Linked DNA regions of Homo sapiens. The protein of the gene in region 1 purifies or fractionates together with the protein of each later gene. This does not show direct contact. Each region holds a gene or a part of one and is shown on either strand. Other genes may lie near its edges. The genes, in order: SLC31A2, CDS2, REEP5, AGPAT3 and PLSCR1.

Region 1 (6,169 bases):
CTGGGCGACAGAGACTCCATTTCAAAAAAAGAGAAAGATCAGTTTTCTTCCCACCCCAATCTCTCTTCACCCCAATTCTCCTCCCCAGAGCAACCTCTGTTACTCAATGTATATATCAGCCTCTGTTTGTCCAAATGACAGCATCCTATCTACGCATACTGTTTTGCATTTGACTTTATCATCCAGTTTTACCTCAGTTCACACAGATTTACCTTTTCCCCAGTGGCTTCATCGTATCTGTGATAGATTACATTTTCCAAAGACAGCCACTCCAATGTATCCCACCCCACATCCCCTTCTTATGATGTCAACACTCCTGCCATCAAGTGGTGGGGTCCATGTTTGTTCCCTCTCCTTTAGCCTAGGAAGACCTTCGTGACTGCTTCAGCCAATAAAGGTAGAAGTAATTTTATCTGATTTCCAAGGCTAGGTCTTGAAAATCCCACGTACTTCTACCTTGTTCTCTTGCGACACTCGATCTTGGAATCTAGCCACTCTGCCACGAGGAAGCCCAGGCCATAGGAGATGCCACATGTAGGTGTTCAGCCAACAACTCCAGCTGAGGTCCTAGCTAACAACCAGTATCAGCCACTTGGCATGAGAGTGAGGAACTCTTCCAAATGACCCTACTTCCAGCCACTGTTTGACTATACTGCATGAGAGACCTTCAGTAAGGACCACTCACCTGGGTCCAGTCAACTCACAGAACCTTGAGAGAGAATGATAAAATGACTTGTTTTAAGCCACTGTTTATTCAGCAATAGATAACAAGAAATAGTAACCCATTGTAGGGCTGACCATAATTTATTTAATCTGCACCCGCAATAATGGGCATTTGGGCTGTTTCCAGTCTCTTTTTAAGATGCAGTTATTTAAGTTGAAAAATAACTTCTTCATGAATTAGTGACAAACTCTGCCTTTTCAAATCAAAGGAATATTCTTTCCTTTCAAATTGGTGTCTCATCTCCAGCAGCTGCTGTGGGCTTCTGAACTGGTGCAGAACAATGAGCCCTGGATAAGGGAGGTGCCAGGTGACACCCGGAGGCCTTGATCTAGTAGTGGCTCTGATGCGTACTTACTGTGTGACCCTGCACGAGTCTCTCTTCCTGTCTCTGGGCTTTAGTTTCTTGCCCTGTAACAGAGGGAAAAGCTGCCTCCCTGCCTCTCGGCCTTTGTGAGGATCAGTAAGATAATGGAGCCCTTTGCGATCTGAAGGGGAGTGGTTACAAATGGAATTATAACTGTGAAGTTCCTGCTCAGTGTTTATGCCAGAGGAATCAGCCTCACTTAAATGCCCACAGAGAATCAAGAGAACCCAGATTCTCCCTTGCCTAGTACTACAAGGCTTTCCAAGCTACAAGTCTGAGGTCCCCAATTCTTACCAGCAGGACTGTGGACACTCCAGAAATCAAACAGAAGCACCGCTGTATCTGAGAAGATGAAATGCATCTGAAAGAGAAAGGAATCTGCATCATAGGGGCACAGGGCAGTGGAAGTTACGGTCCTTAATGCTCTCCAGCACCTCCTCTGGGAGCCCAGAAAAATGGGGTCACTGGAAGTGCTGGAAGGGCCATCAGAAGTCATCAGGGCCAACTGAGGCCATAAAGAGCTGAGACTTGCCCAAGAGGGTCAGCAGCAGAGCTATAATTGAGCTGGCCATGCTCCATATGAGAATAGAGGTGTGGGAGTGTCCATCCTCACTGGACCAACTGGCTCGGGATGTGACAGTGTCCTCAGACTATGTGGGGATGTCCCCTCCATGCCTTCCAAGTGCAACTGCCTCTTCTTACCCCCCCGGGACCCTAGCCATTCTGCTGCAGCTCCAGAACAGGCTCCCGTGTGATGGAAGCCTGGAGTCCTCTTTGTCCTGTTCAGTCTAGACAGATCCCACAGTGTTTATCGTGGAGGGGCCCAGAGGCAGCTGTCTTCACTGTACTCCACATCTGCCTACTCATTCACTATACATTTGCTGAGCCCAGTTTGTGTGCCAAGCATTATGGAAGTAGGTTAATGTCTCTGACCTTGGTGAGTTCACAGCCTTACAGGAAAGACTGCAGGTAAAAGCAGTGACCATGCAGTGCCTGTCAGATGCCTTTTCAGAGGGTGCTTGCTCCACCTTGTGTTCAGGGTGGCATCAAGGGCTTTTTCTACATCATCTCATTTCATTGTCACAACAGTCCTCTGTGTGACAGGGACAATTAGGTCCATTTTACAGGAAGGAAAGTTAGGGAAACTAGACTTAGAGAAGTAATTTACTGGTGGTCACAAAGCTAGTAAGTTGGCAGAGCTGGGATTCAAACCTGAGTCTAGCTGGATTCCAAAGCCCTGGACATTCCAGGACACGGTGCTTCCTCCCAATCTCCAAGAAAGGAGGGTACAGTGGGAGCTGGATGGTGAGTTCAGACGCCCACACCAGGCTTAATGACTGTTTGGAAAGATGAGGGCCCAACAGATCTATCAGTTAGTTCACCCTCTCAGGGAAGTGAAGGCCCCCTCTGGTCCCCAGGTAAGCCCTCAGCTAGCACAAGCAGTTCTGCAAACACTGTCAGTGTTACCCAGCTAAGGAGATCCTGGCTGAGTTGTAATCAGCTAGTGGAAGCCTTTGCCTTCTAAGACAATGGCCAAATATTAGAATCCTTGAATCTCAGCACTAGAGGTATCCTCAGAGTTTTTAGTCCCATGGCTTTCAGCTTTCTTCACCAGGGAACACCAGCCAATTAAAATCTTTCTTCTAATTCCATTATGTAAAACACGGGGCTCAGGGTGGAGAGGGGAGAGAAATATGAGCTCTGATGAAACTCAGTTTGAAAAATGCTGATCTGGCCCAACTTGAGTCCCTCTCCACCCCCTCTCATTTCCAGGTGAGGAAAATGAGTATGAAGAGGGAAAAGGATTTGCCGGACCTCCTTATAAGCGGGTTACTCTCAGTTTCTGTTCAAGGGAGGAAGATATGGAGTGAGACTGTGGGTACTTGTGAAGGCTGTGGGGGCCATCAGTTCTTACAGAAAAGGAGTTCCGGTGGAGGCAAACGTCAGTGTGGGGGTGGAAAGGTAGGCAGATTTGATTAGCTGCCATTTTGTCAGGAAGCTGTGCCATGTGGGTGTCCTGTAGCCTCCTGGAAACCAGAGCCACAAACTTCTGCTTGCAGACGACAGCCCTAAACCACAGGCCTTGCATGTTCTAGTCGTCTCCAATCCTCCCCCTCTCAACAGTTAGGACCAAAGGAGATAGTAAAGAATAGTAGTCTGAGTCCAGGATTTGGAACAAAACACATTTGTTAACCAGGGCCTCTCTCTGGCCTCAGTTTCCTCCGAGGGGAGCTGGGGGAAAACTCTGCAAAGCCATCCACACAAAGTGACACACAGTAAGGGCTCAATAACCCCAGTGCCTTTTTTTCCCATACATGTCAAAGCTGGAGGGGTGTTTCTCAGAAGTGTTCCATGGGAGAAGTACAGGATGCTAGGAGGTACTGGGAAAAATGGATTCTATGGTCAAGGGAGTTTGAGAGAGACTGGAATTAGACAAAATAAGGTTTAATAGCTTTCTGCACTGCCAGAAGCCTGTACCCAGAACTCTCTCCTCCCCTTTTTCTCTTGCTGAGTGCCCTGTGGGAAAGAATCTCATAGACTATCCTCTAGGAAGTGCTAATTTAGAGCAACCCTCTTTTTTCATGCTGGGAGGGAAATGACACTGATTATTCTGTGCCAGGCACTCTTCTAAAAATGTTATATGTCTTAACTCACTCAATTTCAAGAGGGGAATTATTATTCTTAGCTCCATTTCATAGATGAGACTACTAAGGCAGACAGAGTTTAAGTAACTTGCCAAGTTGCTAGCTAGAATTTTGCCTGGGTGGGCTGGTTTCAGATTCTGTGCTCCTAACTGCTCTCAATGCAGCTTCTCAGGGCAGCACTGGAAGTCCAAGGGGCAGCTGTGACATGCCCAGGGTCACACTGTGAGTTGGTGGCAGCATCAGGACTGGATCCTGGGTCTTCTTACCAGGCCCTCATTTGGCAAGAGGAAAACAGATGCTACAACACAGAGAACAGCCCACTTTCTTGTGCAATACTAGACAGAGATGAGGGCTGTGCTGTCGTTCGGTTGTTTTAACATTTCAGGAAGATATGCAAACAGCAGAAGAAACTGATATGGCCACTTTGGAACAAAATATGGGAAGAAATTGGGGAGAGGAAGGAATGTATGAGAAAAAGCCTCTGTGCAATTAGGATAGTCATGCTTAGCCCCCGAAGGATGTTCAGCCAATAGCTGGCCCATATTTCCTGAGAAAGATGAAGAGTGCACCTTAAATAAAGGAAACAAACAAGGACCAGTCTGGGGATGGGACAGTAAGACCAGAGCCCAGGGACAACAGCGGACAACAGGATGAAAAGGCAAAGAGGATAGGGTGGGAGGGAGGACACTGGAGCGGATCACAGGTGTGGATGACGATGCTGTTATAGCCGGATCCACAGAGGCAGAGTCAGTCCCGGGTGAATCACTGGGAAACCACAGGCCAATCATGAGCTCCACACTGGCAAGCGGCTTAGTGTAGAGGGACAGCAGCAGCTGCTTAGACTCCAGGGCCTTATTAAAAGTACAGATTCCTGGGCCTCCTCAGGCCCCTAAATCAGAGTCCAGGGTCAGAGCCACAGGAGACAGGGAAGACATAGATTTTAACCAGCCCCCTTCAGGAGATTCTGAGGCTCAGTTCACTTTGTTGCAGTTTGAACAGAGGCAGCAAGGCTAGTGGTTAGGGGCACGGTCTCTAAAGCTGCACTGCCTGGATCTCCCTCCCAGCTCTGCCAGGAACCAGCTGCGTGGCCTTGAGCTGCTGACACGCAGAAAGCCCCCTGTGGACCCAGTCTCCTCGTCTGTAAGATGAGGACAGGACTCTAGGAACCCTTTCCCTTGGTTTGGCCTCACTTTCACAGGCTCCCATCTTGAACTCTATCTACTCTTCCTGAAACCTTGTAAAAGAAAAAAGTGCTAGCCTGGGCAACATGGCAAAACCCTGTCTCTACAAAAAATACAAAAATTAGTTGGGTGTGGTGGCATGTGCCTGTAGTCCCAGCTACTTGGGAGGTGCTGAGGTGGGAGGATCACTTGAGCCCGGGAGGTGGAGGTTGCAGTGAGCCAAGATCATGCCACTGCACTCCAGCCTGAGTAATAGAGTAAGACTCTGTCTCAAAAACAACAACAATAACAGTGAGTGTGCCTCTGTTTCCGGGTTGGATGGGGCACCACATCTATGCATCTCTCAGATTTGGACGCTGCAGCCTGGGGTTTGGTAGAGACCTGGGACTAACCTGGCTGTTCTACTCCCTACACTCAGCTAACATGCCTTTCAGTGCCAAAAGGGGTCTGACTTGTGTCACCAACCCCTGCCTGCGCCTACCCAGGGACTGGGCTCACTGGAGACCGTGGAGCTGCAGGACAGAGAAAGAAATGTGAAAGCATCTGATTGGACAGAACAGCCACACAGCTCTGTGTCTTCTGAGGGACTGCATGTGCCTGTACCACGTTCACCTTCCATTTATTATGTGTCACTCCCTGTGACATCTCCGCAGGTGCCTACTATTATTAACCTCTTTAACAAGGAAGGTACATAAAAGCCCACTTATCTCCCCATGGTCACTCGGCAATCAGGTACCCAGAGCCAGAGAGTTTTCTGGAAAGCCTGTACTGGTTCTCAAACCTTAGTGTACTGGGTGTTTCTGGGACAGGTGTTTCTAGGACAGGTGTTTGTTGGGGGTCACACTTTGAGAAATCATAGGAACCATGATGGTCTCCTGTCAACCAGTAGGGACTGGTCAAGTAAATTATATGAGAGCTTCAAAATGGAAATCTAGGCGGTCACATCACAACATGATAAAGATCATGTTGAAGACTTTAAAAAATGTTGAAGAGTTTAAAAATAAGAATAGCTTTTACCCCCCACCCCCAATGGCACTAGCTCAATGTAAAAAGCTGACACAGTACCGAAAAGAAAGTAAAAAATCATTTTGAGTCTTACTACTCAGAGATCTCTCCTGTTAGGCTTTCAAAAAAAAAAAAAACATTTTGACACAGCAAAATGTTTACGCAAGATTGATATACAAAACCAAACAGGTACAAACAATACTGTGAAACTCCATTTACACCGGAGATGGCCTCATCCTCAGCAGAAGCC
Region 2 (6,169 bases), on another chromosome or scaffold:
CCCCTTTGCAGATTTTATATTTTAATAGTCAGGTGTCATTCACAGAAGTATTGCTATCAAGCTGATCAAAAATAGGTCAGATTGACATTGAGGTCAGAACAAATTTTTCGTGCACCTCAAACTAGCTTTGAAGGTAGCTATGAAAAACCATCAGCATTATTAGAATTAGTACGTGGCCTTACCTGAATGTATACTAATATAACGCTTTAATGTTTGTGAAGTTTTAATGTATTTGATTTAATCCTCACAGTAACCCTGCAGTTTTAGCTCTAGATTACAAAAGAGCTGAGACTCAGAAATATTATGTTCCTAGCTCCCCCTGAGGTTGCAGAGTCTACGCCCAAATCCAGTAAAATTTCCACCATGCTACAATGTCACCCAAGGCGGTCTCCTAAAATGACTCCCCTAAAGATGGTAAGTTCCTAGATGATTTTTGTTTCGGTCCCACTGCAGAATCTTTGCCAACAGGAGAGTCAGGACAGGACCATGCTGTGCTGTTCCTCAATGGTGGCTGAAACACAGGGGCAGGTGGCACAGGCCACAGTCCTGCCCCTACACTCTGCTTCTCTTAAAAGAGCTCCTACAAGGCCGGGCGTGGTGGCTCACACCTGTAATCCCAGCACTTTGGGAGGCCAAGGCAGGCGGATAAGTTAAACTCGGGAGTTCGGAACCAGCCTGGCCAACATGGCGAAACTCGGTCTCTACTAAAAATACAAAAATTAGCTGGGCATGGTAGCAGGCACCTGTAGTCCCAGCTACTTCGGGACCTGAGGTGGGAGGATCGCTTCAACTTGGGAGGTGGAGGTTGCAGTCAGCCGAGATGGTGCCACTGCACTCTGGCCTGGGTGACAGAGTGAGACCCTGGCTCAAAAAAAAAAAAAAAAAAGGTAACAGCTGCTACAGCTTAACATAGAGCATCAGCTCTGCTCCCCTGCATGGTCACAGTTAATGTCACAAAACTGTATACTAACCAAGAAATTCCCCAATTCCTACCTGACAGACATACAAAAACAATACAGACACAAGAAATGGTGAACTGCTTAATGCATACCTATTAGATAGAGAGTAAAGGAAATGAACCGGTGGTATTTACTGAGAATCCGCAAAGGCTCTTCTCTCTGGACCAGGGTGAAGAAGTAATCCGTCACTGTCTCACCATAGAAGAAATAGTTTACACACAGGAGAAAGTACCTGTAAATGAAGACAGGTCATTGCCGTGGGGAGCACCCTTGCCTTCACAGCAAGGCAGTCAGACATCCCAGAGGAAGGGACAGAGGGCAGCAGAATACCCCCCACCCTTGAGTCCCCCGGGACAGCTCACAGAGCAACAGGCAGACCATGGTTTCCTGCTCTCTGGTGACACCGTAGGTGAGAAATTTATCTAGAAACAGACAGCAGCTTTCATTCACTCTCCATTTCTCCCAAACTTGAGACTCCGTTTTTGCCCCTTTTGTAGCATTCCCATACCTAACTGAGGGATCCTTGAACCATATGACCTTCAAAAACACGCCTCATCCTGCTTCCCCAGTCTCGTTTCCACTCTTCCCAACAGGAACTCCTTCACTCCTATCAAAATGGTTTCTTCCGGCTTTGCCACACCTGTCTGCTGTTCTCCTGCCTTTTTCCTGCTCCTGACATTCTCTTTGCTTCTCCATTTCTTCACTCCTTGCTCAAATGCCATTTTATTCATAAAACTTTGCATGACCTAACATGACATCTGCCTCCCCTGCATTTATTTCTATAGCAAGTAATATGTGATTATCTGACTAAGCAATTAATGATGCATCTGCCTCTCTGAAGCCTGGCTCTGACAAACAGACCTTCCATTAGCGTTAACTCTTCACTTGTGTATTCTCTCTCCTCAACTGGCGTTCATGAGAAGAGAAGCCATCCCTTGCAGCCTCCACAGTACTGCTGAGTATGGCACCATGCAGCCATCACTGCAAACCCCCAGCAAGGATCCTGAGATAGAGAAGAAAGTGGAGAGCTTTTCTTTCCCATTCTTTTTTTTAAATTATGAAGTACAAAAACTCCCATATTGGGTTTCTTTTCTGTTACATGGAAAAAACTTTCTTTGTAAAGTGACCACAGCCAGGAGTCAGGCCTCCTGAGTATGTTAACAAAATGCAAAACACTGCTTTCCAGCTAAAGAACAGCCACAAAAGGGACCTGCATCTTAAGCCAGGTGGCAATCCCAATTCCATCTGGAGGCTGGGAGGCAGCCTGTCTGTTGGGTGACAGGAAACACCTCAGGAAGGGGGTGCCCAGCCTACATCTGAGCACATCGGCTTCCTTGACAGTGACCAGGTTGCTGGGGCAAAAACCACTGCTCTCCAGCCGGCTAAGTCATGGCTTCAACCCCTGTATCCCTGCACAGTGGGGTGAGAAGGTCCACATTTGCCCCAGGTCCTCTCAGCATGGTGCAGTGCTCTGCTCAAAAGTCACCACCTGAGAATACTACGGCCAATAAAGCAGAGTTTCAGATCAGAAAGGGGTCTCAGACATGTGTTACAGGTTTTTCTTTTTGCTTTAAGAAAGCTGAATCCTTTCCCAGGAAACGGAGAAAGCCAACTTTCCCAGCGGAGCCCAGATCCCATGCATTCAGCCTCACTCCTGCCCACTCTGGCACTCAAAACACCTCTGATGAAGTAGGGCTCAAACACCACAGTCTGGAAACCAGTAAGTCTCAACCATCTGTCTTAGAGATAAGGAAACCAAGTTCCAAGGATAACAAGCAAAGCCGGCAGCAGAACCTAACAACTTCCAGACAACTCTAGTGGGATGCTGAGATATGACGGCATGAAAAATATACTGATCTAGAAAAACGGGATCATCATGCAGAGTTTAAGGAATCCAAATAGCGAGGCAAACACAGTCACAGAATGCAGCCCATCTGGTTTCTTCTCAGGAAGATTCCAGACTTCAAGTAACTATAAGACTCCTGCAAGGCCAACCACACAGTCTGGCCTATGAAATACTCAGGTCTCAAAGGCACTGTGCGAGTCTGTGGCAATCACCTCTTTTCTCCTGCCTTTTTCTCTTAACTTTCTCTTAACATTCTCCTAACATTCTCTTACCCATTTCTTCACTTATTGCTCAAATACCATTTTCTTCATGAAACTTTGTATGACCTAACATGATAACTGCCTCTCCAGCATTTATCTCTATAGCAAGTGATAGAAATACCCACCGTCACTGTAAGTACCTGCCACAAAGCACATCATCCAAATTCTAAAAGCCTCTGTGGGGCCGGAGAGCTTACCAGCTGAGCGTCCTGAACCAGGGCAGATCATATGAGTGGTAGACGTTGTAGCCAATAGTGATTATCTCATGGAAACACTTAATCTGAACGCACATCACCTGCGGGACACAAAACATTCACTGACACCCCAATTCTTATGATTTTTGGAAATGGAAACCAACAGGTCATGAGCCTTCCAGAAAACCCATTATACTTAAGAAAAATATCGGGCCTCCAGTGGTTCTGCTTCCCTCCTTCTTCCTCTCTCATACCATCCCACAGAGCAATGCAGCCCTCTATGTCACAGGGAGTAGATCCAATTTTCCACTCACAATAAAATACACACCCTGATGTTTCAATTAACTTTTTTTTTTTTAAGACAGGGTTTCACCGTGTTGCCCAGGCTGGTCTTGAACTCCTGGGCTCAAGCAATCCACCTGCCTCAGCCTCCAAAAGTGCTAGGATTACAGGCGTGAGCCACCGCACCCAGCCAAAAGGATTTTTTTTTTAAGTAGAGACGAGGTTTCACCTTCTTTCCCAGGCTGGTCTCGAACTCCTGGGCTCAAGTGATCCTCCCGCCTTGGCCTCTCAAAGTGCTGGGATTATAGGCGTGAGCCGCCATGCCTGACCCTCAATTAACTTTATTCTAAAACCTCCTTTTTAACTTTTTATTCTAGAACCTCCCAGGATTCAACCAATCCATTCTCCTTTTGACTCTGAATACTTGAAAAGTCTCAAGTATTCAAAGTCAAATGCTTTGCTCACATGCAGCTGATGGTCACCTGACCCTGTCCAGGACAGTGGGAAGACAGACAGAGCAGCTCTGTGGACTGGGATTTCCTTAACAAAAGCTCTAAGCCCAGAAGGGAGGCCCCAGGAAAACAGGAAACGAAACCAGGAGTCATATAGAGACATGCCCAGGGTAAAAGTTTACAGAGTTGGAATAATAAAGTCAGTTTTGTTTGTTTGTTTGTTTGTTTTGAGATGGAGTCTCACTCTGTCACCCAGGCTGGAGTGCAGTGGCATGATCTCGGCTCACTGCAACCTCTGCCTCCCAGGTTCAAGGGATTCTCCTGCCTCAGCCCCCTGAGTAGCTGGGATTACAGGCGCGTGCCACCACGCGTGGCTAATTTTTGTATTTTTAGTAGAGACAGGGTTTCACCATGTTGGTCAGGCTGGTCTCAAACTCCTGACCTCGTGATCCGCCCACCTCAGCCTCACAAAGTGCTGGGATCACAGGCAATAAAGTCAGTTTTTTAAAAGAAAAGACACTGAGACATCTTCAACCATAAACAACCAGCCTACACCAATGACCCTCCAGGTGGCTACTGAGAAGTGGGAAGTCACAGATGTTCTATGGCAGAGGTTTTCTGAGAAGCCTGGACCCCCGTCAATTCCCACAACCAACCCAACACCTCGCACTTAAGACAACCGGGCCTGCAGCAAAAACTGAAGGGAAAACTAAAATAGTGTGAAATGGCACTTACGATTATCATCAAAACCATTGGTCCCAGGTAAATGATGATGAAGAAAAATGCAATCATGGCCAAAGTCAGGATGCCTCTCACCCACCAGTTCTTCCATCTAGGTCAGAGAGCAGGGGAAGGAGAAAACACCAGTTAGGAGCCCAGAAAAAAACCAATGCACAAACTCAAGGGATATGGATCTTCCTGAGATGAGGGCCCTGAGCTCAGTCCTTTCCAGATTCACCGTGACGGAGGCACCAGCCACATGCTGGCAGGAGCAGGACCACTAGTACCAATGCCTAAGTCACAACCAAACTTGGCAAAAAATAAACCTAGCTTATATCTTAAAGAAGGTATCAGGCAAAACACAAACAAACAAAAAAACCAAGGGAAATGTAGTGCCCTCTGCTTCTGTATCCACTTGGATGGTTTCTACAGCTGACTATCTGAAGAAAAAAATATTTTTTTCCAGCAGCAGGATCCTACACTGCACTGCCCTGAATAATTATGGGAATAATAGTAACATTATGCAATGATAATAACAGCTACCATAAATATGCATAATTTTTTTTTTTTTTTTGAGACAGAGTTTCCTCTGTAGCCCAGGTTGGAGTGCAGTGGCACAATCTCAGCTCACTGCAAGCTCCGCCCAGGTTCATGCCATTCTCTTGCCTCAGCCTCCCGAGTAGCTGGGACTACAGGCGCCTGCCACCACACCCAGCTAATTTTTTTGTATTTTTAGTAGAGACGGGGTTTCACCATGGTCTCGATCTCCTGACCTCCTGATCCACCCGCCTCGGCCTCCCAAAGTGCTGGAATTACAGGCGTGAGCCACCATACCCGGCCTGAGTAAGGTAATTTTATGAGGACTTTACATATATTAACTCCTTCAATCCTCAACACACTTCGCTTTTACAGATGAGGAAATGGAGGCACAGGTCAAACAGCTGGCAAACAGTAAAGCTGGGATCTGAATCCAAGGGTCTGGCTGCAAAGTCCACGCCCTTAACCACTGCACAATTCAGACTCCCAAGGGGACAGTTGGAGGCACACATAGGAACACTGAGATAATGCTTTGGGGTCTTATAATGTGTTTTTGATCTACTCACATAGCTGTGTTAAAAGAACCAGGTTCTCAAGGGCCAAAAGTTTTAACACTAGATTCACCTAGGTTAAGATGTTTCCCAGTTCTTCCTGGAGAATTTAAGGAACTGTTCACAAAGGATGTGAGAGAAACTAAACTCTGAACTGGAAACGTGGACTCCTCAGTGAAAAGCAGCCTGCCCATTAATCGCAAACCCAAGGCTGGTTTCCTGTGCTGTGCAGTGTCAGCTGACCTCACCCACCTCCATCCCTCCTGTCCCCTCTTCCTCTTTGAACTGCACTTCCTAGTCCAGTCTGAAGCACCCTTCCGGGGCCAGATCCTTCCAGCCTTGGTTGCCCTCCCCTCCTGGTCACTGTG
Region 3 (6,169 bases), on another chromosome or scaffold:
TAATTGCAGCATTATGTATAATCGCATGACAAATGTCCTCAATGTCTTTCAATTGGGAAGTAGGTAAATTATCAATAACATTAGATAGCTATGTCAAAAAATACTGAATAACATGAGAAAATACTCAGAATACTGTGTTAATTGAAAAAAGCAAGACACAGAATTATATATCATATGTGATCTAAGCCACACATATGTTAAGACAGCAATACATACATATATATATACACATACACACAGAGTTCTGTTTTTATTTATATACACAGACCAATATATTTGCACATTTTAAAAAATAGGAAGACTACTCTAAGATGTAGGATTACAAATGTTATTTTCCTCCCTACATAAAACACATCCCATCACACACACACACACACACACACACACACACACACACACACACAAATGTAAACAGTAGGACAACAAGGACTTTGTTTTATTCGCCAAAGTATCTCCCAGATGTAGAACAGAATCTGGCACATGGAGGTTCTAAATAAATCTGCTGAATAAAGGAATGAGCATATGTAAATTTCATAATCAAGAAAAAAAGCTTTTAAATTTATTTTTAAACCCTCTTGCTCAAGGCCAGATGTCAGAGCAAAGCTCAGAATATGCATGATCCAATTTCTACCTAAATACATCATATATTATCTTCTCAACTAAGCTTTGATGCCAAGCCATTGGCTCCTTTTATTTTCCTCCAATCTTATCAGCTGCTTTAGAAAAATGAAAATAAAGCCAACAATATTAACTCTGCAAAAAATAAAATATTAAACATGTCCTCGGGCTGGGAGCAGTGGCTCACACCTGTAATCCCAGCATTTTGAGAGGCCGAGGCGGGCAGATCACTTGAGGTCAGGAGTTTGAGACCAGCCTGGCAAACACGGCGAAACCCCATCTCTACTAAAAATACAAAAATTAGCTGGGTGTGGTGGTGCGTGCCTGTAATCCCAGCTACTTGGGAGGCTGTGGCAGGAGAATCGCTGGAACTGGAGAGGCAGTGGTTGCAGTGAGCCAAGATGGCACCACTGCACTCCAGCCTGGGTGACAGAGCAACACTCTGTCCCAAAAAACAAAAAACAAAACAAACCCATGTCCTTACTTGTAAGTCTCTTTCCCACACTTCCAGTCAGCATGCGATTGCAACAGCATAGGTAAGATGGATTCTAGTCCCTAAAATTCAATACTCTCCTGAACCTTCTCCTACAGACGAGACTCTGCAATTCAGAGGCCTCTTCTCAGTCTGTTCACTAGGTCATTCAGAGTATGCCACTAATGTAGGAAGAAAGTATTTTGATTGACAGCATCATGAATGTTTAATCCTTTCAAGTATGTTATCTATTTGGAATGTATGCAATAAATTCACTTTCATGAACACTATGATGCCATGCAGCTGGAGACTACTAATGGATGCACATTCATTTTACCATTAGGGAAGAAAGTCTGCTACAAAGCAATATTTTAAATGAACTTCAAAACCAAATATAAATGATTCAGTGACTACCATTTATTTTGGATCTTCTCTCTACCTCTCTGTGAACTCCATTAGCAGAGGTGATTAGGAGTAGGCTAGAAGTCAAGCTTGCTCACATTTGGAAGTCTGAGGTCAGAACTACTGCAAGTAGTTCTGCTGACAAGATAGTGTTCACTGCCACAAGCAAGTGGGCCCAAAGCAAAAGCCAATTTCTTTCCACTAAAGACTACTGTGAGGTCCCTACGATTAGATGGATCTTATTAAGGGCTTTAAAATTATCTGAAGTTTAAATTATGTCATGTCCAAATTAAAGATTGTAAGAATATTTTTATAAATGTTAAATGACTTTGAATAATAAAAACAAAAAAATCCAATCTTTGAAATCAACTCTTTCCACAGACCAATTTTTATTTTCTTCCATCAGTTTTGAAAGGAAAATTCTTAATTGCCTTACAAGGCATTCTGTGGTGAAGTCATTCAAAAATATAAAAGAATCTATACTGAGCATGTTTTCATTTAATTTTTTAAACTTTAAAAGACACTCACTTCATATAGTGTCTTGTCTTTTTTCTTTTTTAACCATAAATGGTGTGATACTGTATTTAATGTTCTATTACTTTTTTTCTTTTTCGAGACAGGGTCTCACTCTGTCACCCAGGCTAGAGTGCAGTTGGGTGATCATTGCTTATTGTAGCCTTGAACTCCTGGGCTCAAACCATCCTCCCACCTCAGCCTCCTGAGCAGATGGGACCACAGGCATGCACCACCATGCCTGGCATTTGTTTTTTGGTTTTCGGTTTTTTTTTTTTTGGTCAACATGCTGTGATCTGGGAGCCTGGTTAATTTTTAAATTTGTGTGTGTGGAGACAGGGTCTCACCATGTTGCCCAGGATGGTGTCAAACTCCTGGCCTCAAGCAGTCCTTCTGCCTTGGCCTCCGAGTATGCTGGGATTACAGGCAAAAGCTAGCACAACTGTCCTGTATAACTTTTCATAATTACTAAATTATGCAAAAATTTCTGGGTCTGTACATATGGATCTATTTCATTCCATTTAACTGTATGGATATACTATTAATTGAATGAACCATTTACCTGCTGATGGACATTTCTGTTTATAATGTTTACATTATGCAGTTCATATTATATACAGTTGACAACAAAAAATGCTGCCATGAATATCTTTGTGCAGCTCTTTAATGCACAGTGACTATTTCCTTAGAATTGTTAAGAGTATCATTTTTCAATTCAACAAGAAATGGTTAAAAGGTCCCTTAAAAAGGTTATTCAAGTTTATACCACTAGGCTGTTAAGTATCCCTTATGTGAAATGCTTGGGACTAAAAGTGTTTCGGGTTTCACATTTATTCAGATTTTGGAATATGTACATTATACCAACTGAGCATACCAAATCAGAAACTCTAAAATCTAAATGCTCCAATGAGCATTTCCTTTGATCATTATGTGGGCACTCAAAAAGTTTGGGGTTTTAAAGCATTTAGGATTTCCAATTTCAGATGTTCAGCCTGTACCATTACATGTCCATTTCCCTATACATTCACCAATACCAGATATTTTCAATCTTTAAAATATCTGCCAGTTTAATGAACAAAATATGGGATTTCACTATTTTAACTCACACTTCCCACATCACTGGTGAGCTGTTTACTAGCCATTCATATTTTTTCTCTTCCGTGAAATACTTAACTTAGAACCTTTTCCCATTTTCTTTTTCTTTTTACTTATGGAAATTGTTATGTATTCTGGATATTCCTTATTTGGTGTAAATGTTGTAAATCTATCTTCCTAGTCTGTCATTATTTTAACTTTGTTTATGCTGCCCACTGTCATATAGAAATTTAATTTTTAGAAATTTTTAGTTGAATTTATCAAATCTTTTTCTTTGAAACTTTTGTATTTTGTCTTGCTTCTATACCTCAAAGTTAAAAAATATTGTCCTCTACTTTTTTCTAAAACAGAGGTTTTGGCATAAAAGTCCTGTCTTTGCAAATCACTCAGGAAAACAGGTGGACACTAACTAAAGGCAGTTACTTCCCTACCCCTCCTGCTCCAACCCCTAGAGCTGTGAACTATAACCCAGGATCACTTCCTTTTGATGCTGCTTTGCTGGGGTAGAAGGGGACTGTACAGTGAAGCTTTGACCTGAGGAGCTCTTCTGTAGGTGAAGAGTGGTTAACTATGGTTCCTGTGTGCCTGGGGCCCCCCACTCCTAGGACTCATCCACCCCCTACCCAGAACTTACTAGTACTAGCATGGACTGGGGCCCCCTCCATTCCAGTGCCTGATGGGATAGCTGATACTCATGGATGAAAAGCAGTTTGTAGGCTAAAATAAAAAGATATTTTAAGAATATATTTCTTTTTTTTTTTTTAGAGATGGAGTCTGGCTCTGTTGCCTAGGCTGGAGTGCAGTAGTGTGATCTCGGTTCACTGCAACCTCTGCATCCCAGATTCAAGCAGTTCTCCTGCCTCACCTCCTGAGTAGCTGGGACTACAGGTGCACTCTGCCACACCCAGCTAATTTCGTTTGTATTTTAGTAGAGACAGGGTTTCACCGTGTTGCCCAGGCTGGTCTCGAACTCCTGAGCTCAGGCCATCTGCCCGCCTCGGCCTCCCAAAGTGCTAGAATTGCAGGCATGAGCCACCACGCCTGGCCAAGAGTACATTTCAAAAGAAAAACAACACAATCAACTACAAGTTTTGGTCAGGAGCAACAATATTAGAACTGCTGACCAAGAATTTTAAACTGGGGAGCGGTAACCATACTAAAAGAAATGAGAAAATATTAGCAATATGAAACAAGGACAAGAAGAAGAGAGCCAAGCAAAAACATTAGGTGTGAACAATATAATAGTTGAAATGAAGAACACGGTATATAGCAGGAATAACAGAATGGTTATAATGTAATCATGGAGTACAGTTGAAAATTAGATGGTCAGATTGAGTCCGGGCACGGTGGCTCACGCCTGTAATCCCAGCACTTTGGGAGGCCGAGGTGGGTGGATTGCTTAAGGTCAGGAGTTCGAGAGCACCCTGGCCAACATGGTGAAACTCTTTCTCTACCAAAAAAAATACAAAAATTGACCAGGCGTGGTGGCACATGCCTGTAATCCCAGCTACTCGGGAGGCTGAGGCAGGACAATCACTTGAACCCAGGATGCGGAGGTTGCAGTGAGCGGAGATTGTACCATGGCACTCTAGCCTGGGCAACAGACCAAGAGTCCATCTCAGAAAAAAAAAAAAGGAGGTCAGATTGAGAAATCTCCCAGAAGAAGTACAAATAAATAGATTTTTAAAAAAACCAACCCTGTCTCTACTAAAAATACAAAAATTAGCCAAGCATGGTGGTGGGCGCCTGTAATCCCTGCTACTCAGGAGGCTGAGGCAGGAGAATTGCTTGAACCTGGGGGGTGGAGGTTGCAGTGAGCCAAGATCATGCCACTGCACTCTAGCCTGGGCGACGGAGCAAGACTCCATCTCAAAAAAAGAAAAAAAAAAAAAAAGGCTAAGACCAAAGACAAAAAGAATTATATATCCATAATTAACCAGAACTAAAACTCAAGATACTACCATTTATGATGGTGGTTGGAGTGATGGAGCTTCCTATATTTAATTTCCTATATCTAAATTTCTTTAGATAAAATTGTTTAAAAGAGTAGCCAGGTGCAGTGGTGTGCGCCTATGGTCCCAGCTACTCGGGAGGCTGAGGCAAGTGGCTTGCTTGAGCATTTTTTTGTTTTTGTTTTTTTTGAGACAGAGTCTCGCTCTGTTGCCCAGGCCTGTCTTCTTGTTTATAATCTGAGACAGAGCCACAGATGCACAACATTCAAGCATTTATTCCTACTTCTTCTATACAGGTACTGAGATGGAGTTTTAGTGGTAGCAAGACCAACATACCTTCAGCATGTAGTAGAAGGGGAACCATGACAGGAAGATATCAGAGAAGAATTCAGCAATGCTGAACACACCATACACTACCCAGTAGGTCAGCCACTGGGTATCATCTTCTTTGTTGGGACTCTCTATAGCTTTAATTCTGAAAGGCAGTACAAAAGAAAGTATATCATTTGGTAAGATATCAATGAAAGATTTTCAAATACACTTTCATAACCTGTCCTCTGATACCACTGAGAAACTTAGGCACATGTAGGCACTGTGTCACTAGATGCAAGAGTACAGCTTAAAGACTGGAAGCAATGTGGATATCGGGACAAGCCATTATAACCACTTGTTTCTAGTCTCCTGGTCACCAGAGAAACCAGCACCAGCTGTTACTGCCCTGGATCTCCACCCTGCCAAAGCCTCCCCACAAGTCCTAGAATATACCACTAGTGACTGGGAGCTAGAGCAATTTCCACTCCCAAGCTGGGTCCTGCCACGAGGGATATATCAGGAAGAATTCTCTCGTGATAACCAGGTTCTTATGTACTTTTAATAATTGAGATATATCATGGGTGAATAAGAATTTCCCATAAAGCAACATTTGGAACATAGGTTAGGTACTGCCCAAAATCCACAGCATATTTTATAGTAAACGGGTGAAAACAAACCTCATGGTGTCTATTTAGTTCAGAATGTCTTTAACTGATCCACAGGCTATGGACTTTCCTCCTCTCCTCAGTTAATAACAGGACTTTCCCAACCCTAACTATTGCTTAAACAAAATTCATTCTGCAAA
Region 4 (6,169 bases), on another chromosome or scaffold:
CTCATTTTTTTTTTTTTTAAAGAAATCACTATTTTCCGTGAGCATAGCGGTGGCCCCGGCTCGGGCAGTCTGGGGCCTACCTGTCCCCCGGAGGCACTTGACTGCGGTGGTGAAGCCCTTGGTCCGCGGCAGCAGGTGGTACTTGAGGACAGGAAGCCCCTTAGCAGCCGCCACCTCCATGCTAACGCGGTGCTTGGTCTCCGTGAAGCGCGTCCCCTCGCAGTACAGGAGAAACTAGGATCAACACGGAGACAGGGTCACTCCACAGAGCAGCTGGGGTGGGTGCATGTCCAGGCCAGGCCTGCCTCTCTGACAGGCAGCAAAGGTTGTGGCTGAATTTGTGGAAATCTTGGAACCGCTTTAGCGAGCAGCATGGGTTATGACTGAAAGGTTCTTTTATTCTAGGGCCACAGTCTGCACTCCAGTCACACACGTTCATTCACACAGGAGAGCTCTCCAGAAAGAACTTTCCAGAAAGAAGTGAAACATGAAGGTGTGTTGGGGCAGCAGCCTCTGAGCAGTGTGAAAACAGAGAGGGTTTCATCGACTTGCCACAGCATGAGTTAGAAATGTTAACAGCAGGCCGGGCGTGGTGGCTCACCCCTGTAATCCCAGCACTTTAGGAGGCCGAGGCGGGTGGATCATGAGGTCAGGAGTTCAAGACCAGCCTGGCCAACATGGTGAAACCCCGTCTCTACTGAAAATACAAAAATTAGCCAGTCGTGGTGGTGAGTGCCTGTAATCCCAGCAACTTGGAGGCTGAGAGAGGAGAACTGCTGGAACCCGGGAGGCAGAGGTTGCAGTGAGCTGAGATCATGCCACTGCACTCTAGCCTGGGTGACAGACTAAGGCTCTGTCTCAAAACAAAAAAAAAGAAATGCTAACAGCAGGCTGGCAAGCTGGCTCATGCCTATAATCCCAGCACTTTGGGAGGTCAAGGTGGGCGGATCACCTGAGGTCAGGAGTTTGAGACCAGCCTGGCCAACATGGTGAAACCCCATCTCTACTAAAAATACAAAAAATTAGCCAGGTGTGGTGGCACGCACCTGTAATGTCAGCTACTTGGGAGCCTGAAGCAGGAGAATCGCTTAAATCTGGGAGGTGGTGGTTGCAGTGACCCGAGATTGCACCACTGCACTCCAGCCTGGGCGACAGAGCGAGACTCCGTTTCAAACACACACACACACACAAAAACACACACAACAAAACGAACAAGAAAACAAAAAAACAGAAATGCTAACAGCACAGGCAGCCCATTTTCCAAGACAGACCAGGAAGAAGGGACAGAAAAAGAATGGGGATGCACACTGAGCAGGGCGGGCAGAGCCAGGGCTCACTGGGGGCACCCTGCTCTGCCCCCTCCCCCGGCCAGATCCCCTTAGGATGGCCTGGTCAGAGCTGGGATTGCGGCGAGTAGCAAGCAGGTGGCCCAAGAGAAGCCTCCACGCCTGCAGCTCAGATGGGGGAGTCATGGCCCCATGGAAACAGCACCCCATGTGCAGAGGCTCTCATGGGGTTTCCCAGCCTGGGATGTGGGCAGCCGTGCATCAGGAGTTGGCGTGGCCTCCTCCAGGCATGCAGGGTATCGGGCTGCTCCGCGCACTCACCCACATGTACTCGGGGTAGTCCGACAGGCGCCTCAGCCCTTCGACCACGGTGTCCCGGTCCTCCTCCCACTTCCGCTTGCAGAACACAATCTCCAGAAAGTACCACGTCCAGCCGATGAGGGGCACGTAGAGCAGCTCCTTCTTAGCGAGGACCTTGGAGCTCTGGAGGGAGGAGAAGGAGGGGCACCTGGCACTTCAGCGTCGGACAGAGGCCAGGGGCTTGGCCAGGCTCCCGCTGCACCCAGCTCCTGTGTGGTGTCGCTCTAGGAGTCACGGCTTTGTGGCTCAGGGGGTCTGCTGTGAAGCAGGACCCGGCTTCTGAGGGTGAGTGGGTCGCCCCAGAAATGAGGAAACTGAGGCTCAGGCTTGGCTGGGAGGGCCCTCAGGGAAGGTGGATGAGCCGGATGCAGAGGCTGCCAGGCTTCCGGGGGGTGGCCTGGGGGTGCTGCCTCACACAGGGGCTTTGACTGCAATGAAATTCTTCTGCCAGCATCGGGGAGTAGTTTAGGTTTCATCTGAGGCAGCTTAGCTAACGGAAGTGGTTCTGCAGGGACGCAGGTGGGGTCATCTCAAAGGCAAAGGCCATGATGAGAAAGGAGGGCACAGCTCGGGGACAGCTGAGGCCCTGCGGGCCAGGGCCCCTCAACCAGCCAGGCACCACTGCCGAGCTCAAAGAGACGCCCCAGGAGGAACACCCAGGGACTCGGACCCCAGGGGCCTCCCCGGCACCTCCTCAGGGAGTCCCCTGCTCCCCTAGCCCTTTCCCTGGGAAACCCAAGGCTCTCCCAGCTCCTCTGCTGGGACCCCCACTGCTCCACCCAGTACCTCCCCCACCCAGGGCCCTCTTGCTCACCCCAGCACCCGCCTACTCCCCCAGATCCTCCCCAGGACCCTTGCCGCTCACTCCCAGCACCTCCCCTGGAAGGTGCTCACCCTAGCCTCTCCCTGGGACCCCCCACTCACCCCCAGCCCTCCCCAGGACCACCCCACCCTGCTCATCCCCAGCCCTCCTGGGACCCCGCCCAGCTCACTCCCAGTCACCACCCCACCCCCAGCCCTGCAGGGACCCCCTGCTCACCCCGGCCCTCCCTGGGTCCCCGCTCACCCCCGGCCCTCCCCGGGACCCTCCTGCTCACCCGTGGCCCTCCCCAGGTCCCCGCTCACCCCCAGCACTCCGAAGCGCTCACACATGGTCCACCCACAGAGGAAGTCGATCTCGAAGTTGTGGTTGAGGATGATGACTGCGTGCTCCTTCCCAAAGCGCTCTACCGTGGCCTGGTCCGTGAACAGTGTACACTCCGTGCAGGACCACCACTCCAGCAGCATGACCAGTTCTGCGGACAGGGGGAGGGCGTTGGCACTGGTAGGACCCCTCCTCCTGGGATGGTCAGGGAGCGCCCACAGGAGACACCTACAGTATTTTTGTCCAGAGAGGAAGTCTCTGCTAAACATGAGTTTTGATGACTTACACTGAGTACGTTTTATGAAATTACAATAACTTTCTCTAAGCAACAGTTGGGAGGAGACAGATGGAAGGTAGCAGCAGAAAGGGAGAGAACCGCCACTCTGCATGGAGACGCTGATCTTTACGCCCAATTACGCTTCTCACGTGCACCTTGGTGTGGCCGAGTACCGCACAGCCACGCCCCGTGAGAGGTGCAGAAGATGAAAAATGTCACTAGATGATTAGGAAGCAGAAAACAACCATCGTATGTCTGCAGAACAGACAGTGGGAAAAAATGAAGAGTTAAGAGCAGAATGGAATTATAGACGACAGAGTAATAGGAATTATATTTTCTCCTAAAACTTGCTTTGGGGTTACACTGGTTTTCCATATTTAAAAAAAAGCCATGTGAGGCCTAGCCCGCCCCCAGGAAGGCCGGCTGGGGGTGCTCGACGGGGCTTGCTGCTGGGCAGGTGGCCAGAGGCCTGCGGGGTCCCCAGAGACAGCAGGGCACACCTGACCCCGTGGGTGCTGGCATGTGAGGGGTGCCAGTCCTGGCTTTGAGTGCTTGTCCCCCCCACCCAGGGGTTCTTGGAGCCTCCTCCCTTGGTCTCTTCCCCTGGCTCCGGCCTGGTGAGCTGAAGACACTCTTCCCAGAAGTGTGGAGGGGCTCGTGCCGGGAGATCTGTTTGCCGGCAGGAGACCTGCACGCCTGGGAGGGCTCTGGGGCTGCTGGGAACGCAGCATCGTCTGTCTCCTGATGGGGACTCTGGGATGCCCTCATTCACCTTCGGGAGAACTGCAGGGCTGAAGAGTTCCGTGGTGAGAACGGTGCATCTTTGTCACACGTGGGCCTCAGAGGGAGTTAGTCCTGTTCAGAGGGCCATGTGGGGAAGGACAAGAGGGAGGCCAAGCAGGTGGGCCTCTTGTCGGCCACCAGAGTCTTGTGCCCCCCAGCCAGTTGTCCGGGAAGGATGGCCCCACAGAACCAGGACGCGGCTTCCAGCTCAGGACGGCCTCAGGCTTCTCGCGCTGGACACCAGCCCAGCTCTGAAGTGTGGGCTTTCTGCAAGGCCATTGCCCGGGGTTCTTTTATACCAGTTATTTATAAAGGACACTAGAGACCAATTCCAAAGACATCCTGCACGGGTGAACAAAGGGCCGCTACCCGAGATCACGCAGCTCAGCCCAGGATGGCCAGAGACGCCTGCAGACAGCGTGCAGGTGCAGGGAAGTGTCTTCCCAGCGGTCATGATGCTGCAGGCACATGCAGGCGAGCAGAAAGGACGCAGAAAGGAGAGAGGGAACTCAGGGTTTGTGGGGGTACCAAGGGACCCCAATTCCTTTAAAAGAGAAAGGTCACCTGTGGGCAGAGGCAGTGGACGGGAGGAAATCCTGCGTGTGGGGAGAAGACTCGCTGACCAAGCCCCCACAGCAGGCCTGCCCTGGCAGGGGCGCCCCCACCGCTGGCTCACCCCTGGCAAGTGCTTGAGACCTCTGCCTTTAGGGTCATGCCTAAAGGCTGGAGAAGGGGAATGAACTGAATGGGAGCCCACACAGCCAGCCAGACACAGGCACACTCCCCATGAGTGTTCTGGAAAGACGAGCTGCGCTGTCTGGAGAATGGTCCCATCCAAAGGTCACCTGTGGCAAGCCCAGGGACATGTGGCACTTTTCCCTTGCTGTCGGCATGCAAAGGCAGCCTTCAGCGGATCTCAGGACCCCTCGGCTGACGCTGGCTAACTGCAGACAGCTGTCAGGGCAGGCATCTGTAAACTGTCTTGCAGGGTGGGCGGCGCCTGGGCCCGATATGAAATTCCTTTTATCATTTCCTTCACTCAAATACATGCTTCCCTAAAGCACAATGAGTAAGCCAGCCATAGCCTATTTTTCAACCACGGATTTAAAAAAATCTAAAATTCTGGACGGGTGCGGTGGCTCAAGCCTGTAATCCCAGCACTTTGGGAGGCCGAGACAGGAGGATCACTTGAGGCCAGGAGTTCAAGACCAGCTGGGGAAGCATGGCAAAAGCCCATCTCTACTTAAAAATAAAAAAAATTAGCTGGATGTGGTGGCAGGCACCTGTAATCCCAGCTACTTGGGAGGCTGGGGCACGAGAATCACTTGAACCTCAGAAGATGGAGGTTGCAGTGAGCCAAGATCGCACTGCTGTGCTCCAGCCAGGACAACAGAGAGACTCTGTCTCAAAACAACAACAACAACAAAAAAAACCTAAAATTCACCCAATAATAGTAACAATTTATCAAGCATTGCTGTGTACCTGCTGTGCGCATTGATTTAGGCTTTATAAGACAGCTCAAAGGCAGGTGGTTTTGTCTGTGCTCTGCAGATGAGAAAGCTGAGGTTTAGAGACTGAAGCCTTGACCAAGGTCAGCAGGGAGTGAGGAGGCTGGGCCAGGTTGTTTAAACGGCTCCAAACCTGCACCCTTCGCCGCAGCACCTATAGCTCTGCACATCAGATGACAGCAGAGACACACTGGCAGTGAGTTCAAAATGGGCAGCAAGAAGGCACCCAGCATTAAGGAATGAGAACAGGAATGAAGAATTGAAAATAAAACCGTGGTTCAGGGTCATCAGAAAACACTGTGGCTGGTGCGGTGGCTCAGCCTGTAATCCCAGCAGCCCAGCAGGCTGAGGCAGGAGGATCACATGAGCCTAGGAGTTGGAGACCAGTCTGGGCAACATGGCAAAACCCTGTCTCTACAAAAAATACAAAAATTAGCTGGGCATGATGGTGCACACCTGTGGTCTCAGCTACTCAAGGAGGCTGAGGTAGGAGGACTGCTTGAGCCCAGGAGGCAGAGATTGCAGTGAGCCAAGATCACACCACTGCACTCCAGCCTGGGCGACAGAGCAAGACCCTGTCTCAAAAACAAACAAACATAAACAAACCCACTGTGAGGTCTGCTCTCACCATGCGCCCCTGAACTGGCAAAGGCTTCCACATACCTCTGACTGCAGAAAGGCTCCCACAAACATATTCATGGAAATAAATCTAAGTGGAGAACATCCCAAATCCAACAAGTCACAGACGGAATTCACATACCCACGCAAGCCCAGCAGATGGAGAGGCCGATTATTTCTGTTCTTACTGAAG
Region 5 (6,169 bases), on another chromosome or scaffold:
CCTCAAAAATTAAAATTACAGCCACCATATGATTCAGCAATCCCACTACTGTTTTTTTTGAAACAGTATTTTTTCAAAATTTTCAAAACAAAAATTTTAAAGGAAAGGAAATCAATATGTCAGAGGTATCTGCAATCTCATGCTTATTGCAGCACTAACAGTCAATATATAGAATCAACCTAAGTATTCATCAATAGATAAATGAATAAAGAAAAATTCATTCTTAATACACACAATGGAATAAAAATCAGCCATAAAAATGAATGAAATCCTGTCATTGGCAGCAACATGGATGAGCCTAAGGGACATTATGTTAAGTGAAATAAGCCAGGCACAGAAAGAAAAATACTGAATGTTCTCACTCATACATGGAAGCTTAAAAAAATTGATTTCTTAGAAGTAGAGAGTAGAGGCCAGGCGCAGTGGTTCACGACTGTAATCCCAGCATTTTGGGAGGCCAAGGCAGGCGGATCACAAGTTCAGGAGTTCAAGACCAGCCTGGCCAGTATGGTGAAACCGTCTCTACTAAAAATACAAAAATGAGCTGGGTGTGGTGGCAGGAGCCTGTAGCCCAGCTACTTGGGAGGCTGAGGCAAGAGAATAGCTTGAACCCGGGAGGCGGAGGTTGCAGTGAGCCGAGATCGTGCCATTGCACTCCAGCCTGGGTGACAGGATGAGACTCCATCTAAAAAAAAAAGTAGATACTAGAATAGTGGTTACTAGAAACTGTGAAGGGTAGGGAGGAGAGGTATAAAGAGAAGTTGGTTAATGAATACAAAATTACAGCTAGATAGGAGGAATAAATTCTAGTGTTCTATAGCTATGTAGGCTGACTATAATTAACAATAATTTATTGTATATTTTCAAATAGCTAGAAGAGAGGATTTGGAATGTTCTCAACACTAAGAAATGATAAATATTAAAAGTGACAGATATGCTAATTATCCTTATTTTTCATTACACGTAGTACATGTGCATTAAAATGCCAGACTGTACTCCATAAATATGCACAATTATTATGTGTCAAAAACAATTCAAAAGGTAGAAAACAATCTTCCTTCTAGAATAGGCTGAAGAAATATTGGTAACTTTTTTAGCCATCAAAGAGATTTTTTTTTACAAGTTTCAGATTTGTATTAAGCATACTTAATATCAACCTTTGTCATATGTGATAACATCCTTTATGTATTTTATGAGACTCTGATTTTTAAAATATCTATTTCTATGTATTTCTTGCATAATATAATAATGACCAAAAATTCCTATGATTATGCCACTTAAGCACATTGTGGGAAATTAAGTTACTAAAGAGAGTGCAAGAAAGAAATGATTTATGAAATGAAAACTGGTTGAATATCACAAGAATATTTGTATGTGTATAGACTGGACACACAGAGTTTCTTGTTTCTATTTGACCTACCTGATTTCTAACACCAATTAAATGTTAAACCTCTTATTGCTGAGATTAATTATAATTTAGTGCAACAAAATCCAGGACTTTTTACTCCTTTATTAATGGCATTTATAAAATTAGGTCTTCCAAAGAACAAAAGCAGCATCATAAAAATGCAGTTTTATTAGTTACAATAAAAAGGTGAGTCATATTATACATAAAATATTAACCCCTTGTTTGGGGCCACTTATTGAAACTCAACAATAAACTTTATTTAAATTTTCTTCCAAATTATAAGGCAATTATTCAGTATTGAGACTAAAGAGCACTTCGCTCAGTACCAAAGTTTCGGGATTAAAAAAACAGTCTTGACTCTTTAGGTTCTCACCCCAGAGTGAGCTATATAACCTCTCTGGACCTCAGTTTCTTCTTTTGAAAAATGTAGCACCTATACATCACAGACTTTCAATAAGGATTAAATGAGTTAATACATGTATCAGGCATACAACAAAGGCAGGAAACAGTGCTAATTAAATGTTTGCTATTGGCCATTATCATAGATTGTATTTAAGATAACAGAAAATACAATTTTCTAAGGCATTTGTATTTTGCTTTAAAATTGAACCAGACCTAGAAGAATTAGAGTAATCTGTTAGCAGAAAATACAGTTTTGCTATTTCAGACTTTGGTGAATTATTCATTTGCTAATCTGGTTAAGCAAGCTGGAAGCACAGTTCTGTTTTTTATGAGTATTTTGTGTCTTTGAAATTACCTGACTTAAATATTCTAATCCAGGTGGACAGTTTAATGGAGGCTGTGGCGCTGGCATCCATGGTACCCCTGCAGCTCCAACTGGCTGATTATATACTGGCTGATTATACACTGGCTGATTTGGGACAGGAAAGCCAGCTGGGCCAGGACCTGAATGGCCGGCTGGTGGGGGTGGGTAGCTGACCTGGGGCCCAGGGTAGCCACTATATCCTGGAGGTCCTGAAATACAAACAAGTGAAATGATTTGTAACTGCACCAAAAATGGAATTGTCAACCTTTTTAGGGTTATGCCATCTATCTATAAGTTGACATTTCAGCGTAGACATCTGTATCTGTGATGTTTAATACGCTTTTCTCTTTCTGAGATTTTTCAATGAAATATCTGTGGTTGCACATCCACTTCTATTTGGATGATAGTATGCGGTGAATAGCCTTACCCTTACCATTCAAAACTCAGAAGGAAAATATGCTTTAATATCTGAGAAAATGAAAATAAATAACCATGATCTAGAGTCACCTACATAAAGATTCTGGCAAGCCTTCAAGGGAAACAAACACGTCATTGGTAGAAGGCCCAAAATAATGGCTTTGAGTCAGCATTTCTAGGGCCAAAGTATCTTGTGAAAAATGATAATTCTGAAATTCTAGCAAATGCCTTATAATATATGTATAGAACTGGGGGTAGTTTTGCCCCCTCTCTGCCAGGGATATTTGACAAGATCTGCAGACTTTTTTTGGTCACAACTGGAGGGGAAGATAATACTGCATCTGGTGGGTAGAGGCCAGGGCTGCTGCTACACATCTTAAAAGAGCCAGAACAGCTCCCTAAAAATGAAGAATTGTCCAGCCCAAAATATTATAGTGCCACTGTTGAAGGTGAAAGCACGTCATTTCTTTCTTTCCATTTTTTTTTTTTTTGAGACAGAGTCTTGCTCTGTCGCCCAGGCTGGAGTGCGGTGGCATCATCTCTGCTCACTGCAAGCTCCACCTCCTGGGTTCACACCATTCTCCTGCCTCAGCCTCCTAAGTAGCTGGAACTACAGGCGCCCACCACCACGCCCAGCTAATTTTTTGTATTTTTTAGTAGAGACGGGGTTTCAGTGTGTTAGCCAGGATGGTCTCGATCTCCTGACCTCGTGATCTGCCCACCTCAGCTTCCCAAAGTGCTGGGATTACAGGCGTGAGCCACCGCGCCCATTCGTTTAGTACACGTCATTTCTTTTAGTACATTCCAGATGCCTGCTTGGGTTAATCCTTTGCCTTATGTTTTAATCCATAATGTATTGCTTTCCTAAGTCCTTCTTCATTAAAATAAAATTCTATTATAATATTTAGGTTAGAAATTTAAATTTCACAATTTAACATCCTTTGGTCTCTGGAAAATATAATTTGAGAAACAAGGATGGCAAAAAATTGTAAGAGGCAGAAATTTAATAACAGTAAATGTACTTCATATTCTCTGCGAATGTGTGATTACAATGAAGATTTATATACCTGTTTGTATGGTCCACAGTGTAGCAATTCCATAGCAGTGGAATACAATTTCAAAGGACTGTGTTTCTCAATATTTTAACATTAAAGCCTATGCAAAATGTAATACTTAGAATAGGAAATTTACAAATTCTTTTAAATGGATCATTTATGATAAAATTCATTTGCCCTTCAAAAATAAGGCTTAGAAAAACAGAATAAACCTCACAATAATGCATCATAAATATAGCTTTTATAATTTATTCCTTTATGATGAATGAATATTTACAAATGATCATAATGTGACTGGCTGTGTTGTAGAATATGAGGATACAATTCTCAAGGAGGCAGCCTGCTGTCAGAGAGCTTACAGTCAACTTCTGGGAGAAAGAAAACACATTTAAAACAAAAAAAATTCATATGGATGTGATGGAGAGAATGTATGCGAGCGAGGGCAGGGTATGAGGCAGTTACTTTGGGTAAATATAATTTATATCAAGGTCTAAAAGATGAGAAGAGAAAAGCTTTATATGAAGATTAGTGATAAATGCTTCAGGAGGAAAGAAAGGCAAATAGAATACCTCTGACTTTGTAATGAATTTGACAGGCGTAAAAGAGAGAGGAATGTCATAAGAAAGAAGACGACTAGGAAAGGCTGTTAGCAAAGCAACAGGAAGCTGTTCATCAAAGGAGGCCTTAGTAAGGAGTCTGGATTTGGTTCCAATTATGATTGGCAAGTACTGGAGGAATTTAAGCAGAAGAATGAGTTCCATGGTCTTATCTATATCTTACAAAATTTTCAGGAGTGGAAAAGCATTAGAATTTACAATGGAAAACACAGATGCAATCCCTGCCCATCATTGTTTAATGAGAGAGACAACTTTATATCCCCACTTATTCTAGGGAGCTATAATACCAGTGTAATTAATTGATTCATTAGAATTGGAGATAAATGCTTTCAAGTAAGAGACCACGGTTTTATGACTAGAGATGCCAAAGGTCGCTATTGAGATGGGAAGAGAAAAAGGGAAGGAGCAGGAACAGCTGCCTTGAGGGGTCACCTTTATGCTGAGATCTGAAGGATGCACAGGAGTTCAGGAGGCCAGAGTCACAGAAAGAACATTTCAGAGCAACGTCCTGGGACAGTAACTAACATAGGCCTTTAAAAATCTGAAAAATAGCCAGTCTAGCTGAATAACAGCAAGCCAGGCTCAAGAGGAAGTTAAAGAGAGAGCATGGAAAAGGCCATCCTGAGTTTAGTGTTAGCCTTTATCCTAAAAGTAATAGGCCACTAATAAAATAGGGGCTCTACACTCTCTGTAATATGAGCAGATTTACATTTTTAAAGATCACTGGGGTCAGCACAGAAACCAGACCATAGGCAGACCAGTGGGGATATGGAGATGTGAGTTAATTTCTTACATTTTTAACATCATCATAATTTTCCCCAGACTCTGAAAGTATGATGGATTACTCCTCAAATCAATGAATTAAGCATAAAGAATTACCTGAAATTTGAATACTAGTATCATTTATGTAAAGACTAATTGATTTAAAATATTTTAAATATGTTAGCAAATACTTGTCATTTATAATTTGCAAGCATTGTGCTCAGTGTTTTACATATACTCTCATTTACTCTACAAAGCAACCTACATTGAAAATATCACCCTTATTTATAGATAGGAACTCTGAGGCTTTGAGGTACTGCAACTTGTTTAAACTACCACATAACTATTAGTACAGAAGGCAGAACCTGGTTTACCAGCACATTTACCTATACGAATTTTTTTTTTAAAGTAGGCAGAACTTGAAGCCTGATACAAACTTCCTATGCCTCAGCTTTCCCACATACATAATGGGGATAACTGACAGTATTTACCTCATAAGAGTATTCTAAGAATTAAAAGTGTTAGTCCACATTAACTCCACATTTAAAACAATGACTAAAGCATGGTAAGATCTCAATTTTAAATTATCCTTACTCTTAGCATCGTTATCTTAAGACTTGTGCTATATGTAATCTTGGACTTGAGAAACAAAATCAAGCTGTAGAGCCATATATATCTATATATATAAACAAACTCTCAAGTCTGATTATATCTGAACTGTATTATTTATGTATATCTACTTTTAATTAGTGATAGGGTGGATTAAATCATTCTCTTAAGTGCCTTGGATGAATATTATAGACTTACTAATGATTTTTCAAACACCAACCCTATAAGAATTTAGAGCAGATGTTCTCAACCCTGGCTTCACCTTAGAATCACTTGGGGTGTTAAAAGATTACTATTCCTTGAGTCCCACCACTGGAAGCTATGATTTAATTTTTCTGGAATAGTGCCTTTGCACTACTATTTTTAAGTGCTTCTGGGTGATGATACTTCAGTGCAGACAAGGTTGCCATGAGCCACCACTTGAGAGTCTGAGCTTATCTAGCTCATATTCTTTCAGTTGCAAACATCTGGATGAGATCCGGGACCCGCAGGGAGGTTTCTTGCTAGGCAATTAAACATGACATTCAGCTCCTAA

The links.
Region 2: the proteins of SLC31A2 (region 1) and CDS2 purify together in Homo sapiens (affinity purification with mass spectrometry; one large-scale study listed by BioGRID and IntAct). This does not show direct contact.
Region 3: the proteins of SLC31A2 (region 1) and REEP5 purify together in Homo sapiens (affinity purification with mass spectrometry; one large-scale study listed by BioGRID and IntAct). This does not show direct contact.
Region 4: the proteins of SLC31A2 (region 1) and AGPAT3 purify together in Homo sapiens (affinity purification with mass spectrometry; one large-scale study listed by BioGRID and IntAct). This does not show direct contact.
Region 5: the proteins of SLC31A2 (region 1) and PLSCR1 purify together in Homo sapiens (affinity purification with mass spectrometry; one large-scale study listed by BioGRID and IntAct). This does not show direct contact.

What each region holds. Positions count from the first base shown.
Region 1 is NC_000009.12:113,153,007-113,159,175, reverse strand, and holds part of SLC31A2 (protein SLC31A2), read right to left. Parts: intron 1,450-6,169; coding exon 1,383-1,449; intron 1-1,382. UniProt on the Homo sapiens protein: Does not function as a copper(1+) importer in vivo. However, in vitro functions as a low-affinity copper(1+) importer.
Region 2 is NC_000020.11:5,173,839-5,180,007, reverse strand, and holds part of CDS2 (phosphatidate cytidylyltransferase 2), read right to left. Parts: intron 4,826-6,169; coding exon 4,729-4,825; intron 3,361-4,728; coding exon 3,263-3,360; intron 1,192-3,262; coding exon 1,052-1,191; intron 1-1,051. UniProt on the Homo sapiens protein: Catalyzes the conversion of phosphatidic acid (PA) to CDP-diacylglycerol (CDP-DAG), an essential intermediate in the synthesis of phosphatidylglycerol, cardiolipin and phosphatidylinositol.
Region 3 is NC_000005.10:112,896,992-112,903,160, forward strand, and holds part of REEP5 (receptor expression-enhancing protein 5), read right to left. Parts: intron 5,528-6,169; coding exon 5,389-5,527; intron 1,381-5,388; exon of another isoform or gene 1-1,380. UniProt on the Homo sapiens protein: Plays an essential role in heart function and development by regulating the organization and function of the sarcoplasmic reticulum in cardiomyocytes.
Region 4 is NC_000021.9:43,964,718-43,970,886, reverse strand, and holds part of AGPAT3 (1-acyl-sn-glycerol-3-phosphate acyltransferase gamma), read right to left. Parts: intron 2,942-6,169; coding exon 2,772-2,941; intron 1,770-2,771; coding exon 1,608-1,769; intron 235-1,607; coding exon 81-234; intron 1-80. UniProt on the Homo sapiens protein: Converts 1-acyl-sn-glycerol-3-phosphate (lysophosphatidic acid or LPA) into 1,2-diacyl-sn-glycerol-3-phosphate (phosphatidic acid or PA) by incorporating an acyl moiety at the sn-2 position of the glycerol backbone.
Region 5 is NC_000003.12:146,526,449-146,532,617, forward strand, and holds part of PLSCR1 (phospholipid scramblase 1), read right to left. Parts: intron 2,384-6,169; coding exon 2,166-2,383; intron 1-2,165. UniProt on the Homo sapiens protein: Catalyzes calcium-induced ATP-independent rapid bidirectional and non-specific movement of phospholipids (lipid scrambling or lipid flip-flop) between the inner and outer leaflet of the plasma membrane resulting in collapse of the phospholipid asymmetry which leads to phosphatidylserine externalization on the cell surface.